Linked DNA regions of Homo sapiens: region 1 is reported to be linked to region 2. Evidence: microRNA targets listed by miRTarBase, many of them from high-throughput screens and not tested one by one. Region 2 holds a microRNA gene; the other region holds the end of a gene's coding sequence.

What was found. The annotated mature microRNA hsa-miR-3664-5p reads AACUCUGUCUUCACUCAUGAGU and lies in region 2 at 2,379-2,400, opposite strand. An mRNA with a match to its seed (bases 2 to 7 or 8) in the 3' UTR can be bound and repressed. Matches are read on the target gene's strand: a 7mer-m8 pairs with bases 2 to 8, a 7mer-A1 pairs with bases 2 to 7 and ends in A, and an 8mer does both.
Region 1: the mRNA of TTLL12 is a reported target of hsa-miR-3664-5p. The part of its 3' UTR that is shown has no 7-base or 8-base seed match.

The regions. Positions count from the first base shown.
Region 1 is chr22:43,165,416-43,168,773 of GRCh38, reverse strand. It overlaps TTLL12 (tubulin tyrosine ligase like 12), which reads left to right. Exons shown (of 14, transcript NM_015140.4): 14 at 615-2,152. The coding sequence ends at 766. Among named protein-coding and RNA genes, the nearest start is that of TSPO, 16 kb to the right of the region's middle. RefSeq lists an enhancer at 1-566.
Region 2 is chr11:70,869,949-70,873,343 of GRCh38, forward strand. MIR3664 (microRNA 3664) reads right to left here and starts at 2,420; the gene lies at 2,322-2,420. The region is part of intron 11 of SHANK2 (SH3 and multiple ankyrin repeat domains 2); the gene reads right to left.

The DNA of each region.
Region 1 (3,358 bases), not on the chromosome of region 2:
GTAAGAGGGGCTCCCCATCTCCTGATCCAAACCAGCAGGCGCCCCCTCCGCCAGCCAGCCACAGCCTGGAGAAGGCAGGCAGCTGCCCCAGGCTGTCCTCTGGCTTGAATCAGCCAGGAATCTGGGTTGGGGAAAGCCCTGGCTTGGCCCACAGGAAGTGCCTGCGGTGCAGAGTCTGGAGGGGAAAGGCTGCGGGTTGGGCCTCTGAGTCGGGGGAGAGCTCACAGGACAGGAGACCCGTGTGAAAGGCACCCTGACCCCAACCCACACCACCCTGGCTGGCCTTCCCTGTGCCAGACCCCCACACAGTACACTGCTGCTGCATATCTACTTTTTTTTTTTTTTACTAAACTGAACATCCAAGCTTAAAGGGCCAGGCTGTCATCCCTAGGGCTGGAGGCAGCCCTGGCCTCTCCTAGAGAAGCAGATGTCAGGCCAGGCCTCCCCAGCAAAGTCAAGAGACCCAAGTTCTAGGCCCGGCCTTGTCCTGCTCATCCCCTGGGAATCAGGGCCCAGGTTCATGGCCTCCCAGCCTTTGCTGGATCCCCAGGCCACTGTCCCTGCAGAGTGGAGGCCAACGAGCCTTCACACTCTGCTGCGCTCTTTGCCATCAGGAAGGCGGGTGATGCAGCCGCAGATCCTGGAGGTGAACTTCAACCCCGACTGTGAGCGAGCCTGCAGGTACCACCCCACCTTCTTCAACGACGTCTTCAGCACCTTGTTTCTGGACCAGCCCGGTGGCTGCCACGTTACCTGCCTTGTCTAGGCACTCGCTGTCCCCAAAACCTGTGCTTGGGGCAGGATTCCAACCTCAGTTCTCTGAGCTGCTTCTGCAAAGGCCCCCATGTCCCTCCCCACACCGGCCCTGGGCATAGCCTCAGCCCCAGGCCTCTGTCCTGCCGAGCCATCCTCCCGGCGCCACACTCCGGGAGCACAGCATCCTCCTCTCACCTGTGGGTCAGAGCAGGACAGTGATGGTGTCCCCAGGGCTGAGCACCACCCCACGCCCTGCCCTCACCCCTCACCACCATCTGTGCACTGATGAGTCTCCAGTTTAGCCAAGGGCTTTGTTCCTGGCATGGAGAATTTGTTCCTGGCTGCTGTGTTTCCAGGGGGTGCTGGGGGAAGGGTTCCGTGGAGCGAGACAAGGTGTCCTCGGGAGCAGGGTTCCACCGGGAAGCGTTTGGGAGCCCTGTATCACACGGGGCAGGCGGGTTTCTCTTCCGGGGTCTCTGCTCTTATGCATCAGGACGACCCCGGGACGGCTGTGGGGCCCCACACTGCACCCACAGGGCTCTATGCGACAGGGGCCCAGGAACAGCCTGAGGCCACCACCCAGCAAGCCCGCCTTATCACCCATTCCAGCTCACCCAGAACCTTCACCAGCAAACCTCCTGCTGAGGTCCTGGCAGGAGGCCACCGTCTTGTTACCGTTTCCTTTTCGTTTGCTGAGGGTCACAGACCCCAACAGGGAAATCAGTATCTGTCTTCCCAGTGGTTGCCCTGCTCGCCGGGCACTCCACGGGGTCCCGCCCTTGTGTGAGATGGGCCAGGATCCTTCGGCAAGGGGCGCCTGGGGCTGGGGCTGATTGTGGGCGGTGGAGCGCCAGACAGAAAAGGATTCCAATGAGAACTTCAGGTTAAAGTCAGATGCCACCTACCAGGGTCTACAGTCAAAATGTTGGCTTTTTCTTATTTTTTAATGTATGGGAGAAAAATGTAAAATTCCAGTTCTTTTCTAATTGTGTTTCTGAAATTAGGAGTCAGCTGCCAGCGTTTTTGTGTGGCTGCAGTGTGCCTGGGCCCAGCTCACGGGCAGTGGGTGGACCTAACTGCCCAGGCAGGCGAGAGCTACTTCCAGAGCCTTCCAGTGCATGGGAGGGCAGGGCTAGGTGTAGCGGTGTCTCCTCTTTGAAATTAAGAACTATCTTTCTTGTAGCAAAGCTGCACCTGATGATGCTGCCTCTCCTCTCTGTGTTGTCTGGGCCCTTGTTTACAAGCACGCGTTACCCTTCCTGAGGGGAGCCATGCTCTAGCCCCTGGAGGGCCTGTTGCAGGGGCAGGGCGGGCCCGTCGCCTTTGGCAGCTCCTGGAGAGCTGTGGACATGCAGTCCCCCTCAGTTCGTGCTGCAATAAAGGCCATCTTCTCTTATTTCTGCCCTCCTTTCTCTTTGGACCCTGGAGCCACAGGCTCAGCCTGGCCTGTCGCCCCGGCTGTCACTGAAAAGCCCCGGATACCAAGAAGTCACCCACAAAAAGTGGGAGAAGAAATAAGATGGCCTTTATATCGCAGGCCTCCACCCCACAGTCTGATTTCCATGTGCTGGATCTGTTTCCAAGCCGGCCGGGAGCCTCGGTCCTCGAGTGGCCCCACAGCTCTAGTGGCCCTGGAGATAGCAGCCTCCCCACACTTGCCTCCTTGTCCTGGGGTGGGGACGGTGAGAAACCCTGGCTGCTGGGGCGTCTGCAGGGCTCCTCGGGCCACTGCTGAGCAGGTGCATGGACACCGTCAGTGGGTGGAAGCAGCGCCACATGGTGACCAAGGAGGTTAAGACTCAGAAGGCAGGCCAGGCATGGTGGCTCACGCCTATAATCCCAGCATTTTGGGAGGCCGAGGCAGGACAGAGAACAGGTCACACAAAGTCAAGAGATCGAGACAGTCAGACAGCATGATAAAACCCTGTCTCTACTAAAAATACAAAAAAAAACAAACATTAGCCGGGTATGGTGGTGCGCGCCTGTAGTCCCAGCTACTCAGGAGGCTGAGACAGGAGAAACGCTTGAACCCAGGAGGCGGGGGTTGCAGTGAGCCAAGATCACACCACTGCACTCCAGCCTGACGACAGAGTGAGACTCCGTCTCAAAAAAAAAAAAAAAAAAAAAGCGGAAGGCAGAGCGGCCCTGAGGCAGGCTGCCTGTGGACTGTGCTGCTTCTCTCCTTAGCCTCCCTTCCAGGGCAGGTCTCAGGACTGATGCTCACACGGACTCTGTCCAGAAGCTTAACAGCTGGTGCTCTCACTAGTTCCCAGCTCACTTAAAACCTGGTGCCCAGGAGATAGTCCTGCCCAGGGAGCAGCTGGGACAGCCCCCAGAATCAAGACCACATGGTCCAGGCTTTCCATGATTGTAGATGGCTATTCTCTGTCCCCACATGTCCTTGCACCTCTGCTCACTGCAAATGGACACCCCCAAGGAAGGCCAAGAGCCAGGGACTTCATGAGCCGGAAGACCAGCCGGCTCCAGGTGCTGAGGCAGTTGCCGGGAGATGTTTATCCCACTAAATACTTCTTCCTGGTACTCATTTGCACCCTCATCACTGTGTTAAGAAGCCATCCAAAGCCGGAATTGACCAGGCACA
Region 2 (3,395 bases):
AAAAGTCCACAAGAGTGTCCCCCCAAATCCATGTCCACCCAGAACCTACGAATGGGGCCTTAACTGGAAATGGGTCATTGCCTCCTTGCAGATGTGATCAGTGAGGTTGCGACGAGGTAATACTGGATTAGGGAGGGTCCTAAATCCAATAATTAGTGTCCTTATAAAGAGAGTGTGGCCCAGGGCACTATGGAAGAGGTTTGAGGATGAGCACAGCAGCAGAATCTGAGTGCTGGAGGCTCACCCAGGCAGAGTGTGCTCCACTTCGTTCCAGGGGACTGAGAGAAATGAACCCGGGGTGAGACCCAGAGCCGTCCCCTCCTGCAGTCCATCTGGGCCAAAATGAGAGCCCAACCAGTGGGGAGGGAGGGGCAGATTCAGGAAATAGAAAAAGTGGAAGGGGCTGGTTCTGGACAGATGGGAAAAGGGCAGGTGAGCGCCAGGAAAGATCTAGGAAGGTTTTTGGGTTTTCAGTTCCTGGGCCATAACTGAGATGGGGTGCCCAGGAGGAAGGGCCAGCTGGCCAGGAAAGATGGGGTATGTTCACTGGAGCTCCTGTAACCACAGCCTGGGTGACTGAAACCACAGGGATGAATTGTCTCATGGTTCTGGAGGTTGGAAGTCTGAGGTCAAGGTGTTGGCAGTGGGGGGGTTCACACTGGGGACTGCAGGGAGACTCTGTTCCAGGCCTGTCTCTCCAGCTCCCAGTGGCCTGTAGGCAATCTTTGGCATTCCTTGACTGACAGAAGCATCACCCAGAGCTCTGCCTTCATCTTTGTGTGAGGTTTGCTCCGAGTGCATGGCTGTGGCCACATTTCATTCATTCATTCATTCATTTATTTATTTGAGATGGAGTCTTGCTGTGTCGCCCAGGCTGGAGTGCAGTGGCACGATCTCGGCTCACTGCAGCCTCCGCCCACACAGATTCAAGTGATTCTCCTGCCTCAGCCACCCAAGTAGCTGGGACTACAGGCACCCGCCACCACGCCCGGCTAATCTTTGTATTTTTAGTAGAGACGGGGTTTCACCATGTTGGCCAGGCTGGTCTCGAACTCCTGACTTCAGGTGATCCATCCGCCTCAGCCTCCCAAAGTGCTGGGATTATAAGCATGAGCCACTGCACCCGGTCCCATTTCCTCTTTTTATAAGAATATCAGTCCTACTGGATTAGGGCCCAATCTAATGACCTCATTTTCAGCTGATGACTTCTGTAAAGACCCTACCTCTAAACAAGGTCACACTCTGAGATCCTCAGGGTGATACTTCAACATATGCATTTGCAGGGACACACTTCAAAGGGGAGTCAGGGGTCTGGGCTCGCCTGGTGGCAGGCTCTGCAGGAGATGAGTCTGAGGGTCCAAGAGGAGGTCCAGGGAGCGCTCTGCAAGCCACCAGCCCCGAAGATCACTGGCACCATAGGAGCAGGGCAGGATGGGCGGGGGTGGGGAGCAGAGAGCAGAGCAAGGGCAACCACAGAACCTGGGGCCACACCACCTTCTGAGATGAGCCACATAGCCTGGCACTGAGCCTCCTTCACGTGCTGAGGCCACATCTGTGTGCCATGGAGCCTGTGAGCCCCTGGAGGGAGAGGCTGTGCCTGGGACCCTGCGGATTCCCCAACACATTTGCTGAACAAGCAGGGCAGGGAGAGAAAGGAAAGTGAGGTCGAGACAAATATTATAAATATGACCATATCCCTGATGGAGAAGAAAGTCAAGAAAGAGTTCATGTTGAAAGGCAACACGGGCCAGACACACCTGGTACTCAGGGGCCCTGCAGGGTTTTACAGCAAACTGTGGCCACATGGGGGCTGGGAGGGGACAGCCAGGAAAGAGGCACAGTCCCCATCTGAATTTGACTGAGAGACTCTTTGAAGCCGTCTGAGATTTCCATATACGATTTCTATTAATATTTAAGGCAAGACGCATCCCATCCTCCATAACAACACCGTCTTGAAAGAAGCCTTTGAACTACTTGAAAGGTAAACCCAGCATTATTCTTGGATTAAGAACTCTTGTTCATTCAACAAATACAGCCCCACGACGACATCCCTGAACACCAGAGCCAGAGGTGCCTTGGCATGTGCACGCTGCCTGCTTCTGCAGCAGTAGGATGATGCGTGTGTGGCCTGTTACGTCACACCGCCAGTGGGTCTGGGCAGTGTCCCATTGCCAATTGCGGGAGGAGTCCTTCAGGGCACGGATGAATAATCATGCTAAGTAGGATAAATAAAAACTATAAATAGCCTCAAATCAGTTCAGGTCAAGTACTACTGCCAACGAGCTACGGAGAAGGCATTCGCTTTTCAGATCTTTTTGCAGATCCACATTGAAGGTAGGGAACTCTGTCTTTACTCCTGAGAGCTCGTGTTGGAAGGTACTCATGAGTGAAGACAGAGTTCCCTACCTTCAAGTTTACAGAGGAGACGGGGTGCACAGTGGAAAGGAGGGGAAAAAAACCCCACACGCATGAAGAGGAAAGACAAGTAGGATGCAGGCTTGGAGGTGGAGGCTCGGCGGGACGGGGAGAAAAAAGGACAAGACCCTTCCCTAGAAGCGCTTGGTGGACACAGTGGGTGCAAACGACCAAGTGGCTGGATGGAGGGAAGAGAGACCCTCAGATGGAGGGAATAGGGGGCCCCCATACAGAGGGGCCCCCCACAGACCAGAGTCAGGGGCACACAGGTCCGTGAGCTACGTGGAATGAGAGATGGGTCCCTGGACCACATTACTTCCGGCTCCCTGGTGTATCTCCTCCACGTTCTGGCCACCTGCGGGTCCCTGTTTTCCTCCACACTGACCACTTGAAAACTGATGGGTGGCAATTTTCACCCCTCATTGTCCTAAGGGTCGTGGGGGCTGCTTTGCTTGGTGCTGGAGTCTGGGGCCACAGTGGAACATGGCATTGATTGCTAAGAGGAAGGGACCCCACGATGCCCTGTAGAGCCCAGCTCCTCGGGGCAGGAGGAGCACATATCCACTGTCTGCCCTCTCCCCACACTCATGACCTCCACCTCCCCCAGCCCCAAACATTACAAAAGCTAAAGACATCCTGGGCACCTGTGAGAAAGGAAGAGCGGAGGTAGTTCCCACGTCCATCCTGGTGCCTCTGCCTCCCGGGTGGCGACCCTCAGGAAGGTGAAACCTGCAGCTTGGGCCCTGCAGTTTATAGAATGATATGTTTGTGGTTCCCTAAAACAAAGAGCCGTTGCCACAGCAACCGTGGCATCCCAGCACTCAGAGGCTATTCTCAGACACTAAACAATGAGTTTTGCCTTTCAAATGCATTTGATACAATTTGCTTGGAAGGCATTAACATCCTCTGACAAAACCCATGAGGAAGAGGAGGGCAGGTGAGAGCTGACAAGGTCGAGACTTGCAGGGCTTCCAGGAATC